Linked DNA regions of Homo sapiens. The protein of the gene in region 1 purifies or fractionates together with the protein of each later gene. This does not show direct contact. Each region holds a gene or a part of one and is shown in the gene's direction. Other genes may lie near its edges.

Region 1 (7,025 bases):
AGAGGAGTGGGCTTGCCACAGCCACCCTGGTGTCCTCCTCCCACCTGGGCATTGAGCAGTGCTGGTCCACCTGGTGGCCGGCCCAGGACCACAAGGCACACAGGCCCTACATGGCAGAGCTGGCCTGCCCCACTGTGGAGTGGCCCTAGAGTGAGAAGGGCAGATGGGCCCGGATTCCCTTACTTCAGTCCCTGCAATGCTCCCTGCTGCCCAGGGAGAGGCCCAGACCCCTGAGAGGGGTCTCTGCTCACTCTTCCAGCCCACCCTCCTCCACTTCACACTCTATGCTGGCAGACGGGAACTTTGTTTCCCAAAGGTTCCTCCCTTCTCCTCCATCTTCCTGACCTTCTTTTCCTCTACTACTGTCTTGGCTGCCTCCTGACATCTTTCAGGTCACAGCAGGCATGTAACCTCCTCCAGGAAGCCTTCCTTGATTCCCTCTGTCCTTGCCCATTCTTGTCTATCCCTTGAGAGTCAGAGGAGGCCTTGCCCAGTGGTGTATTTTCATGGGAGGGGGCCGATCAGTTTGTGGAATAATTGATGAAGAAGGCCCTGGTCTGGACTCGGGAGCCTGTGGCCGGGTCATCACAGCCGGGCCTGCGCTGGAGCCATGGCACGTCGGACGCAGGGTCGCCCAAGGCTGTCCCAGGGAAGGGCTCTGCATCCTGGTGCTCCTGCAGGCTGGGCCAAAGCTTCTCAGGTGGGGCTGCTGCCATCTGCTGGAGAGGACCTGAGGCCCCTCCTGGGAGGGGCTCCGGAGACACAGCGGCCCCTTGGTTCTGCAGCTTGGGCCGGCTGGGCTTTGAGCGTGCTCTCTGCTTCCTCTGCTCGCGCCGCAGGTACTACTTTTTGGTGTACAATGCATCAGTCCTCTACTGGCAGATGGTGAGGCCGTTCCTCAAGCCTGGATATCGTCACCATCTGATCCCCAGCCTTTCCCAAATCATAAACGTGCTGAGTCAGACTGAGGAGGAAGACAAGGAGTGGCGTGCTGAGCTGATGCTGTGAGTTGAGCTCGCCGTGCCCTCTGTGGCCTCCCGGTGGGCCGCCCTCTGGCTCTGAGGCCACCACCCCTTCTCCGGGGGGGGGACGGGAGTTCCACATCACTGGGGCACACTCCATGTGCGTTCTCTCCCACAGTCACAAGTTTCTGTGTGTCTTGTCCGAAGGTCGTTTCCAAAATCTGTAGATGACATTTGCCGTGCCCTGGTTATGAGGTTATGACAACAGAACAAGATACTGTGTTTAGACTCCCAGCAAAGCAGATATGATCCTGCCCCACGCAGCCTGGCTCACGGTTTTACAATCTTAGTTCTTAAAATGGTAACGCAGTAGACGTTTTAACAGCGTAAAACTAAGCAGAGTCAGCACATGCGGAGCCCAGGCAGCCCTGCGAGGAAGTTGGGGCAGCACAGGGCAGGCCGGCCTTGCTGGGTCTCAGCCCTGAGGGGTCACCGCACAGGCTGTCACCAATGCTTCGGTCACTGTGCCGGGCGGCGGAAAGGAAACGGGTCCGAGCCTCTCTGTGTCTGCGGCACTCTCTGTGCAGGCTGGGGACGGGTGGATGTCCCCATTGAGGATTCCAGCTGTGCCAACTCCAGAGCAGCTCCCCTCGGCACCAAGCCCACAGCCTGCAGGTGTTGGTTACTTGCCATATGGCCGTTTGGGGAACCTTTGAAGAATATCAATACAGATCTTTCATTTCAAAATGCCCCGGTGCTAGCGGTAACGAGCTGTCTGGCACCTGCTGGCCCTTCCTGGTGAGCCACACAGCCTGGTTCTGGCTGAAGAAGCTGACCCCAGGGTAGCTTTTAAACTTTGTGAAACACAAAATATGTAATGGTTTAATAACCTGGTTATTAGATAGGAGAAAACAGTTTCAACCAGGTTGACCAGTGGTGTGTTTCTATTATCCAGGGAACTTCTGGAGTGTTATCTGCAAGCCGGAAGAAAGGAGGAGGCTGCCAGGTTCTGCTCCACGGCAGCTCCGTTCATTAAGTCTCACGTGCCACAGAAATACCGGCAGATATTCTCTGTTATGGTAAATCAGCGTATTAGAAATAGAGACGTAAGAAGTAATTTTCTTAAAAGTCATTGTTCAGAAAACTGCGTAGAAATTACATAAGTTTGCTGAGAGATATAAAAATCTATATGCATACATACATGAACAAAATTACATAAGCATATTAAAAAGAAATAGCAGTTCATCCAATGCAAAGATGTATAGAACTGTGACATTTAGAAAACAAAACAGGGTCTTTTGCCTTTATCGTCGCTCTTTAAATATTTCCTTTGTAATAGCTTTGAATTTTTTTAAAGTTAATAGAAAATTCACAAAGATACAAGTAATTACTACAAGAATATGTACCAAAAGCATTCATTCATCAGCAGTCCATTTTGACATATGGGGAATCAGCTTAAGTTGTATCTGAAAAGCTAGATACAAAATTAATGAGAAAATAAAATCTAGACACAAAATCTGAACCTCTACCGAATTGTTTGAATCCAGATTAATAATCTGCTCCATTTTATGACAGGTTCGTCATGAATTAATGGACGAACTTCAGTTAAAGGAAGAAAAGAAAAATTCCATTAGCCTGTCAGTCACTTTCTATATTAATATGCTAAAGGCGTAAGTCGTTTTGGGAGGGAGAGCAAATACTGAGTTTCACAAGTGCTGGGCTTGGGAGAGCTCTGTCCCCTCCATGGGGGGAGGTCCTGTGTCCAGGGGCCTGTGAGTCTGGAGTTGCAGTGAGTGGGGCTGGAGAATAGGAGCCTGGGAGACCTCAGGGTGTGGGGATCCGAAGGCCACCCCAATTCCTGGCCCTGCCTCCCTCCCAGCACAGAGGAGAGGCCAGTGAGGCCACAGAAGGGAGAGGGCGGCTTTAAGCCAAGTGCAGAAAGAGCCTGTAGGAGGAGATCATGGTGTGTTTGGATGCCGAGGGGAGTGAGGAGATCATGGTGTGTTTGGATGCCAAGGGGAGTGAGGAGATCACAGTGTATTTGGGGGCAGAGGGGAGTGAGGAGATCACAGTGTATTTGGGGGCTGAGGGGAGTGAGGAGATCACAGTGTATTTGGGGGCCGAGGGGAGTGAGGAGATCACAGTGTGTTTGGGTGCCGAGGGGAGTGAGGAGATCACAGTGTGTTTGGATGCCGAGGGGAGTGAGGAGATCACAGTGTGTTTGGATGTGAGGGGAGTGAGGAGATCACAGTGTGTTTGGGTGCCGAGGGGAGTGAGGAGATCACAGTGTGTTTGGATGTGAGGGGAGTGAGGAGATCGCAGTGTGTTTGGGTGCCGAGGGGAGTGAGGAGATCACAGTGTGTTTGGATGTGAGGGGAGTGAGGAGATCGCAGTGGGTTTGGGTGCCGAGGGGAGTGAGGAGATCACAGTGTGTTTGGGGGCTGAGGGGAGTGAGGAGATCACAGTGTATTTGGGGGCCGGGGGGAGTGAGGATATCACAGTGTGTTTGGGTGCCGAGGGGAGTGAGGAGATCACAGTGTGTTTGGATGCCGAGGGGAGTGAGGAGATCACAGTGTGTTTGGATGTGAGGGGAGTGAGGAGATCACAGTGTGTTTGGGTGCCGAGGGGAGTGAGGAGATCACAGTGTGTTTGGATGTGAGGGGAGTGAGGAGATCGCAGTGTGTTTGGGTGCCGAGGGGAGTGAGGAGATCACAGTGTGTTTGGATGATGAGGGGAGTGAGGAGATCACGGTGGGTTTGGGTGCTGAGGGCTGTGAGGAGATCACAGTGTGTTTGGGTGCCGAGGGGAGTGAGGAGATCACAGTGTGTTTGGATGTGAGGGGAGTGAGGAGATCACAGTGTGTTTGGGTGCTGAGGGCTGTGAGGAGATCACAGTGTGTTTGGGTGCCGAGGGGAGTGAGGAGATCACAGTGTGTTTGGATGTGAGGGGAGTGAGGAGATCTCAGTGTGTTTGGGTGCTGAGGGGAGTGAGGAGATCACAGTGTGTTTGGGTGCCGAGGGGAGCGAGGAGATCACAGTGGGTTTGGGTGCTGAGGGGAATGAGAAGATCGCAGTGTGTTTGGGTGCCGAGGGGAGTGAGGAGATCACAGTGTGTTTGGGTGCTGAGGGGAGTGAGGAGATCACGGTGTGTTTGGGTGCTGAGGGGAGTGAGGAGATCGCAGTGTGTTTGGGTGCTGAGGGGAATGAGAAGATCTCAGTGTGTTTGGGTGCTGAGGGGAGTGAGGAGATCACAGTGTGTTTGGGTGCCAAGGGGAGTGAGGAGATCACAGTGGGTTTGGGTGCTGAGGGGAATGAGAAGATCGCAGTGTGTTTGGGTGCTCAGGGGAGTGAGGAGATCACAGTGGGTTTGGATACCAAGGGGAGTGAGGAGATCTGAGGTATTTGTGTCCTATGGGCAGCATCCCTGGGAGAGAGCAATGCTGGCCCAGGTCCTATCGCCGTTGAGCAGAGAGAGTGCCCCACATTTCCCGTGTTTGGCTCCTATGTGGGGTGCTGACTCTGGCGAGGGGTCTGGGCCCTCTGAGTGTTTCTATTCCAGCCTTGTAGGAAGGCCGGGCATCATGGAGGGAAGGAGGACCAGAAGGGGTGAAAAGTCATCTCAGGAATTTGAGGAAAGAAGGCAGGAGGGGTTATTTTCAGTCTCCTCTTCAGTGAGAAACACAATTTCATACACGCAGAGTTTCTCTTAGAAGAATTTGAATAAATCTGACAGGATCTTGTGCTGAATTACTCTCTGAATTATTTCTAGAAAAGCGGAGCAAAATGATTTACCAGGTGACATCAGTGTCATTCTGAGGAAGGCCTACAGACACTTAGGTCATTACAACCACCAGCGCTTTCCCTCTATCAGTGAAGAAAAGTAAGTGTTTGTATTTTTCCAATATCACATCTTCATAATCGTTGTACAAAATTTAGCAGGCACTGAAAAATGTGAAAAAATGTAAAACAAGCAACTAGAACCACCTTTGCAAAAGCCAGCCATTGTGGAGGTTTTAGTAAGGTCCTGTCTGGTCTTTTGTGGCCTGAGATTTGTACTGTCTTGCGAATACTTTCATACCCTACTTTTTAACATGAGTTTAGTTTGTAGGCATATGGATGGTTAGGTCACTGTGGCACCTCTCACGGTTCTGGTGGCTGCGTGGCGTTCCATGGGTGGGAAAACACAGGTTTCTCTGGAGCCTTTTTCAGGCTGGTTTGTTTGGATTCTGTGCTTTCTCGAATCCTCCAGGCACTGTTGAGAGTTTGGGATAAGTCCTGGGCTGGTATCCTGGAAGCAGGAAGCTGAGCCCGAGGCTTTCAGAAGCACATGGAAAGCACTGGCTGGTTTTGCCTTCGTGGGCACGGGGTGGGTGGGGGGGTTTGTCCCCTGCCCCTGGAGCGATTTTGTCACCTCCTTAGTAGCACTGTGTATATTTTTAAGAAAATGGGAAACAAGTAAAGCTTGTTGATATGGGAGGCTGAAATTATCTGTTTGGTTTTCTGGTGGCCATGGGAAACTAACAGAGAAGGTGTATTAGTTATCTGCAGCTGCGTAACAAGTACCCACAAACTTAGGAGCTTGAAACAACACAGGTCCATGACCTCACCGTGTCTGCGGTTCAGGTACCCGGGCACAGGTCCATGACCTCGCTGTGTCTGCGGGATGGGAACCTGGGCACAGATCCATGACCTCCCTGTGTCTGTGGGACGGGAACCTGGGCACAGCAGCAGCCACAGTGTTGACTGGTCTGGGGTCTTTTCTCGAGGCTGGACTGGGGAAGGGGTCCCCCAAGCTCACAGGGGTGTTGAGAGGACTCGGTTCCTGTGGGTTCAGGCCTCGGTCCTGGTGGGACAGCTTGCTTCATCAGTGCTAGCGAGGGGCGCCAGACGCCAGCACGTTCGTGGTCTCATCAGGGAGGTGGCACCTGCCCAACATTGAGGTCTCCGCTGCTCAGCTGCAGGCTCCTCGAGGGAGGGGCCCCAGGACCGCAGGGTGGCTGCTGGGCCACAGCCTGGGCCGCAGGGGCACAGGGCCAGCCTGCTGGTGGGTCTGTTTTTGGGAGGGGTATGAGTGCATGTGTACATGGGGATGTGTGTGGATATATTGTTCTGGAAGGAGTTTACGTCTTCCATCAGACCCTCCAGGTTGTTCTAACTGAAGTCCGGCCAAGCGTGGCCGTGGCCCTGGCCGAGCATCCCCTTCTGTGGCCAGGCGCTCCGACGAGAGGTCTTGGGACCAGTGTAAATAGCCCTGTTCCGAGGTCTGTCCACAGGCGGCATTCTCAGGCACTTTTACGGATTCTCTCTTCCCGACCTGCCCAGCAGGCCTGTGCGCTGGAGCTCAGGTAGGACGGAGAGGCCAGTGTTGTGATGCCAGGCCTGCCAGGACCTGAGAGGGCCCAACAGCAGAGCAGGGGGAGGAGGAGGTGGGCAGGGACGAGGGGCGGAGAAGCGTCCGCACCCCACCCCAAAGCAGCCTCCTGCCCACAGCTACCCAGGGATGCAGGGAGGATGGTCACACCACACTGAGGGCCGAGTTGAGTCGCTGCCAGCAGCCGCCAATTGTGTTCCCGGTAAGACTGTGATTACTCCCCGGGAAACAGCAGAAGACATGTAGACCTGCTCCCCAAGGACATTTGGCAATGTCTGGAGACACTGTGGGCGGCTGCTCTTCATCTAGCGGGCAGCTGCAGGGACACAATGGACAGGCTCCTCCTGGAAGAGAGGCGTCCCGGAGGGAAACCCTGGCCTAATCTCCACCGGAGGAGCGTGATCCTGATCCCTGCAGCTCAACAGGAAGCCTTAGAGTGGAGAGCTGAGAGCACCCGCTGTGCTCTTTCTTGAAGTTGTCTGGAGCACTGTGGGTCCTTGCATGTGGATACAAATTTTAGCCTCAGCCTGTCAGTTTCTGCAAAGACCCTGATTGGTGACTGCAGGTGCGGTTGGCGGCACGCCTACGGGCTTGTCGCATGGTAGGAAGGCCCAGGCTCTGTGTGGGGAGCGTGGGGAAGCCCAGGCTCTGTGTGGGGAGGAGGAAGCTGCAGGATCTATGTGGGGAGGAAGA
Region 2 (7,025 bases), on another chromosome or scaffold:
CAGTAGACCATATTTATATACCCTTTCCTTATATTTGTGCTTTTGTTTTGTTTTAATGGAGAGAAAAATCAACAGTAGAAACCACTTACAAGATTACTTACTACTGTAGTGTGGTATAAAGTAAAAGATTTTACAAAATTAAAAACATAGTGATGGGAAAATATGGTTAGAGTCAAACAGTCTGATTTTTTTTTAAGGTTGCTGGTTACAGATCAATGTCATGAACAAACAGTAATTTTTTTTGGAGGAGCATGCTTGGAGATGAAGTATAGCAGTATAGCAGACATCCGATCATTGTAATCTGTTTTCAGCCCCCTTATTTATATTCTCTTCTGCCACCTTCTCATTTTCCCTCCCCCTTGGAGTTGATACCAGGAAGGACCTAGAATCAGCAATTTTCACTGACAGTCTCTATTATCTAACCCACGAAATTTCATCTTTCTACAAATGGGCCCCTCTTCCTGGCTGCACTTTCCTCCCCGCACTAACTTAACTCTTCTTCCTCAGTTATTAATTTCTCGCTGTTACCAAGTGATGACTTGCTGGATGGCAAAAGTGAACTCTTGGATTTAGTTTCAGCTGGAAGAATAAACCTGTAATTGTAGCCTGGCCTTTTCCTGGTGCGCTTCCCTGGGGGCCTGGCCTCACATTGGAGACGCTAAGCTTCCAGAAGCCAGACAGGCAAATCCCAATGGTGACCGATGCTCTCAGTTCTGGATTCCAAACTGGGGGGCAGCTGGTCTCTGCTCACCTGCCCAGCCAGAGTCTGCCTCCTGTGCTTGGTCCCCAACCGACTCAGACCAGGCTTCCTCACTATGAGCTTCAGAGGTTTTTGTGGGTTTTTTTTTTTTTTAACATTCTATCAACTTTTAAGTTCTGGGGTACATGTGCAGGATGTGCAGGTTTGTTACATAGGTAAACATGTGCCATGGTGGTTTGCTGCATGGATCAACCCATCACCCAGGTATTAAGCCGGAGCTGTGGAGTTTATACAGGAAGCCCAATACAGAGAATGTAACCAAGACTCATGCTTAGGAGATGGCTGCCCTCTCTCATCTGTCATCACTGGGGAGTCAAATGTTTCAAATGAATCAATTTCACAATAATTGAAATTAGCCCTTGAGGGACGCAATTCTTCCTTTAAACAATTCAAAAAGAAGCAAAGTAAAGCTATGTATACCACATGCAGATAGATGTAAAAACGGAACCTGATGAACTAATTCTGTACTCAGAAATTACTGACGGCATTTTACTTGAGAGACATGCGTGTCAGCCATTTCTGCCACGGGGGTTCTTCTGATGCTGTGATAGGCTGTGATGAGGAAGCCATTCCAAGTTGGTGTAGCAGGAGTTTGTGTGTCTTCTGGCTGGGCAGCCGGGGACCTCCGTGCTGTCGGAATGTGTTTTGTATATTGTCTGTCATGTCTCTTCCTAGTTTTTTCCAAAAGCCCTCTCTTTTAATATGACATTAATAAGACAATTAGAACTTAGTGTAAACTAACAGTAAATAGTACATATGTTTCAGTGCATGGACTTCGTATGTTCTTCTTAGTCTGCTCATGATGTCTTTTGTCAAAAAAACTTTCATTCTCATCTGCATTCTGGATCATTGAGGTTCCCAGAAAAGTGATTTCTGCGGGTTATATAAACAGTTATTTGCGACATCTCTTAATGTAACCTGGAAAGTTTCTAACCCAGACATTTAACTTTGTACTTCAACGCTGGTTTATTATCAAGCTTCGGAGGTTTTTCTGGGTTTTTTTTTTTTTTTGACATTTTATCAACTTTTATTTTAAGTTCTAGGGTACATGTGCAGGATGTGCAGGTCTGTGACATAGGTAAACATGCGCCATGGTGGTTTGCTATGAAAATACACATTTTAAGGGGAATGTGCTGGGGAGGGACATGCTGATGTGCATTGGTGAAAACTGAAGGGCGATGGTGAGATCCTCCTCAAAGTGAGCTCCTTGGCAATCAATCTTGCTGAGTGTTGCCACTGAAAGGAGAAAGGGAGTGCTCGGTGCGTCCTTACCCTTCAGGGGCAGGCGGACTGCTTGGGACTTTTATGTATATAAACCTATTGACTCTTCCCCCAAAGTCTATTGGGGTATGAGATTCCATTCACAGCCTCTATTTAACCATTTAACTTAGCCATTCCTCTGTGAATCCATGTTATTGCTGAAGATAATAATAATAATTTAGAAAAAAATCTCTAAGTGACTATAGTTTTATTTGACCAAAACTTGAATTTCGAGTCTGTCCTAGTTGATCTGTTGGTCATGCAGTCCTGGGACTCTGTTCCCCTCCGGGTCTCATCTATAAGATGTCGAAGGGGAGAGGGAAGCAGCAGAGAGGAAGGTGGACAAGATGGATAAGACGTCACCTAAGGTCCTTAGCATGTTGAAATTATATGATTTTGATCTAAACCTAATTGGTTACACTTCCTTTCCTGGTTAGATATTTATCAACAATGAATGGCACGAATCCAAGAGTGGGAAAAAGTTTGCTACATGTAACCCTTCAACTCGGGAGCAAATATGTGAAGTGGAAGAAGGAGATAAGGTAAATACTTAAAATAAATTTGCTCTAAGTAATTCAATTATGGATGACCAAAGGATAAGGAAACGGTTCGGCTTAGCTATAAGACAGAACTGGCCTATCCTGGGGGCAGGGCCTGGGCTAGCTGCGTGAATTGGCATGTGGTTCTCAGACGTGTGGCACAGAATGGCATCAATTACCGATGATCCTCTGCAGAGAATCATTCTCCCTTGATAGATGTTTCTCCTACTATGAGGATGACCTCAGCTATCCTCATCATATGGCTAAAGGAAAGGTTTTCTTTTTTCTTTTTTTTTTTTTTTTATCAATTATTTGGACCTGGAGGCATTAAAGAATCTTTCCAGAAAGCATTTCCCGCTGGTGTGTTTCACGAAATGAAGCTTTCTGGCAGAAGACACTTTAGAAAAAAATAGACACTTTGAAGGAAAAAAAATAGTTGCTACCCGGGTGATGCGGGGATAGTTAACAATGTAACCACCAGATTTCTTTTCTCCTAGAAATTTACATGAGCATGGAAAGCGGTAACCTTTATCACTCTATTTGCAAGTGCAAGGTCTATATAGTAATACAGAAGCTAAGGGACTTCCGAATGTGTCCTTTATACATTGCAAGGCCATCAAATCTATTCTGAATGTCAGTGCAGAGGTAAAGCCCTTCCACTGAGGGCAGGGAGATGTAAATGTTTCCTTAGCTGCTGGAGTGCTGGACTGATGTTCTTGGTCAGCAAACTGATGACGTTGGAAGTGGATGCAGTGAAGGGCGTGTGCAGAGTAGGCTTGGATTTTATCTTGCCCATGAGTTTTTGTGACAGACGTGCAAATGCACACTGGCCCCACCTATACAGACCCCCCTCTGTGTGGCACCTCATGACAGTTAGGCTCTGCTAACAAAGAAAGTGGCACAGAGGAGCTCATAGAAAAATGTGAGGGCATTGGGGGGAAGCCATGACATGGAATGGGGTTTCCACTAGGAGACTCCCAAGTGCCCCGTACAGGTGCTAGGAGGAGAACGAGACCCTTGCCCTGGGCCTTGATTTCTCCCTTGGTCTGAGTGACTGTTCTGAGCCAGAGGCCACCACACCCTCTGCAGCTGGAAAGGTCCTGGCCTCCACCCCAGAGCCTGGGAGAAGAAATTCAGTGTCCCACATCTCCCCTGCCAAGCTTCTGCTCACCCCCAAGCCAGCTCTGGACACACAGAGACTCGGTAGAGTCACTCCTGACTGGTGTCCCACATCCACTCCCTGCTGTACCTTCCTAGAAAGAGAGAGGCATGGAGGGGCCTTCGAGATGAATGTGGCCCATTTTCCTGAGAAAAAGAGACAGTGACACTACTCTAAATGGCCCTCACTTCTTTCCTTTTAGAAAGAAGGTTCCGTTGTGATTATTCTATCAGTGCACAAAAGATCCAGTTCTGCTCCCATGGGGTGGGTGAGGCTGAAGGGAGAAAAACGGCCTTCATGCTCCTCCCTGTCTGCGAACTGTTCCACGATGGTCAGTTCTGCAATCCAGAAAGGAAGGAATTTCCCCATTCTCACTCTTGGACCACAAGTTCCCAGCTGGGATCAAATGCCAGGCAGACACTTCCCACCTGATCTGTGAACAGCAGGCTCGTGTGCGTTCACACTGAGGCAGCCAGTGGAAAGTCCTTCCGTACTTGGGTCCCTGAGAAAAATACTCTTTAGGAAATATTTTTAAATGCTTTTTATAATCAGAAACAAACATTGGTATTTGGCCACTGTAGAAATATTAAGATGTAAAGAAGAAAAAAAATCACTTGAACGCTCCCAGCCATTCAAGTGATTGAAAAACATGCTGCTGCTTGCAGCCTGTCTGCCAGCGGGACAATCTGCTGTTCTCTATAACTGATGGCCGTGGTCCCAAACTGCAGTCACGTCAAAAGATGACACCCAAACTGCAGTCACCTCAAAAGATGACACCCAAACTGCAGTCACGTCAAAAGATGACACCCAAACTGCAGTCACCTCAAAAGATGACACCCAAACTGCAGTCACCTCAAAAGATGACACCGAAACTGCAGTCACTTCAAAAGATGACACCCAAACTGCAGTCACGTCAAAAGATGACACCCAAACTGCAGTCACCTCAAAAGATGACACCCAAACTTCAGTCACGTCAAAAGATGACACCCAAACTGCAGTCACGTCAAAAGATGACAGTCTCTCTCTGTTGTTCTGGTCGCTCAGCCCGACGTGGACAAGGCTGTGGAGGCTGCACAGGTTGCCTTCCAGAGGGGCTCGCCATGGCGCCGGCTGGATGCCCTGAGTCGTGGGCGGCTGCTGCACCAGCTGGCTGACCTGGTGGAGAGGGACCGCGCCACCTTGGCCGTGAGTACATGCACTTGGGGGCCGGTGGGGGATGAGCCAGCCTCACTGAGGGTCCTGTCCACCATGGGGTATGGGAAAAAAGATCACGGTCCTGGTTTTGTGTGGTCGTGGGTCTGTTCCATCCTCTGAGACACGGCTCTCTGGCAATACTTGCAGGTGTTAATGCCTCTAGACTGAATCCCTTTCATTTTGAAGTCAGACTTTTGTCCTCTGCAGCTCAGCTTCTTGACCAAGTTGTTGTCTATAGGCAGTTGAGCTACATCAGTGGTCTCAGACTTGGGGCACTCACAGATTGGTGACCATGAGCTGGGCCATATCCTGGTACCACCTGTGTGTTTATGTACTTAACTTTTTTCTTTTTTGTATAAACTTCCTTTTATTTATTTTATTTTATTTATTTTTTTGAGACAGAGTCTCCCTCTGTCACCCAGGCTGGAGTGCAGTGGCGCGATCTCGGCTCACTGCAGCCTCTGCCTCCCAGGTTAAAATGATTCTCTTGCCTCAGCCTCCTGAGTAGCTGGGACTACAGGTGCCTGCCACCATGCCCGGCTAATTTTTATATTTGTAACAGAGACAGGGTTTCATCATGTTGGCCAGGTCTTGAACTCCTGGTCTCGAACTCCTGGCCTCAGGTGATCTACCGGCCTTGGCCTCCCAAAGTGCTGGGATTACAGATGTGAGCCACTGCACCCAGCCTTAACTCCCTTTTAAACTTAAGTTTAATCTCATCCTAAGAAACAATATTCATGAAATCACAGGTTTGATGTGCTAATTTTATTTTTCTAATACTTACCAAAATAAATGCCACCACTTAACATAGAAAAAATTGTTCCCATGTGACCTAAAATCATTCCTCAGTCACCCCTGAACTGGCTAGTAGCGAGCATATGTGGAGCGGTGGTGAGGGCAGGATAGCCTGGTTATAGGAAACCTCAGAATAGGAAAGACCTGGGTTCAAATCCCCACTCTGCCACTTACTAGCTGTGTGACTTTGGACAAGTTGTGAAACCTCTCTGAGATTTATTTCTTCATGTAAAATGTCACCGATAATGATAACTCAGTGGTGTAAGAATGATCTATTTAAGATTCTAGGCAGAGTCCCTGGCAGGCAGTAAGCACTAAATAGATGACAGCTATCATTAATAATAGCAGTTATCATAATGAGGTCATGTGAAGACCCATTTTCTAACCTCACCTACATGCACTGCTGGCCAGTAATTTCTAGATACCCTAGGTGGGGATATTGATGGAGCATACCCCATGAGGCTGAGCTGCCAAGGCATTCATCAGTTGTAAGTCCATTTTTTAGCAGGATCCTCAGACCCTCCTCTGGTCATGAGGGAGTGATCAGAGGACATCTCAGGGCCACGTTGGGCCATGAGGTCCTTTGCATCCTGTCCTTGCCCATCTCAGCCTCTTGTTTTTAAAAGTTGTTCCAAACCTTGAGGCCCGGTTGTAGGGGAGGAGATCTCCTTTCTGGCCTTTGATTTGGAAAAATGGTTTTTCTGATGTCGGGAACAAGCAGTAGGGTAGCCACTGTTTAAAGGAGGGTGTCAGCCAGGACACGGAAATTGCTGTTGCCCCTGAATGTGTTTCTCAGGGTGGAGGAACTCTCAGGCCGTACTCTTGGGTGCATTTCCCTAAGGGTGCATCCACACAGAAACTCGAGCTCCCCTTCCTTCCTTCCCAGTCAGCCCGGCCAGTCCACATGTTCCCCGGGTGAGAGTAGCTCCCTCCCAGGGTAAGCGCTTCTCTCTGAGGAGCCTCTGGTTTCTTCCTGCAACGTAAGCCAGCGTCAACCCTCAAGCTGCCAAACTGGCTTTTTCAAAAACATTTCTGTTTTCACCCGGCATGAGCTCATCGGTCGGCAATGTCCGTGTGGACTAATAGCAGGCTAGAGAGGATGTGCCCTGGGCACCCCCCGCCCTGAACCCTGTCCTTAAGTGTCAGTATCATCTTAGGAGCAGAGGCTACAAAGCCACCTTCATCTTCAGGCTGCCCCATTGTCCTGGCACGACTGTGTTTTGATAGCAGACAGCTTTGGAGGATCTCAGAATGCAAACCCAGCAAATCACTTCTGCCACTGGCACCTCGCAGCCCACGAGAAATAAGATCCAGCTCT

What was found. Proteins that work in one complex are often made in the same cells at the same time.
Region 2: the proteins of CFAP46 (region 1) and ALDH1A3 purify together in Homo sapiens (co-immunoprecipitation; 2 studies listed by BioGRID and IntAct, with this or other methods). This does not show direct contact.

Annotation. Positions count from the first base shown.
Region 1 is NC_000010.11:132,932,568-132,939,592, reverse strand, and holds part of CFAP46 (cilia- and flagella-associated protein 46), read left to right. Parts: intron 1-839; coding exon 840-1,004; intron 1,005-1,917; coding exon 1,918-2,041; intron 2,042-2,537; coding exon 2,538-2,632; intron 2,633-4,730; coding exon 4,731-4,841; intron 4,842-7,025. UniProt on the Homo sapiens protein: As part of the central apparatus of the cilium axoneme plays a role in cilium movement.
Region 2 is NC_000015.10:100,882,810-100,889,834, forward strand, and holds part of ALDH1A3 (retinaldehyde dehydrogenase 3), read left to right. Parts: intron 1-2,457; coding exon 2,458-2,562; intron 2,563-4,762; coding exon 4,763-4,903; intron 4,904-7,025. UniProt on the Homo sapiens protein: Catalyzes the NAD-dependent oxidation of aldehyde substrates, such as all-trans-retinal and all-trans-13,14-dihydroretinal, to their corresponding carboxylic acids, all-trans-retinoate and all-trans-13,14-dihydroretinoate, respectively.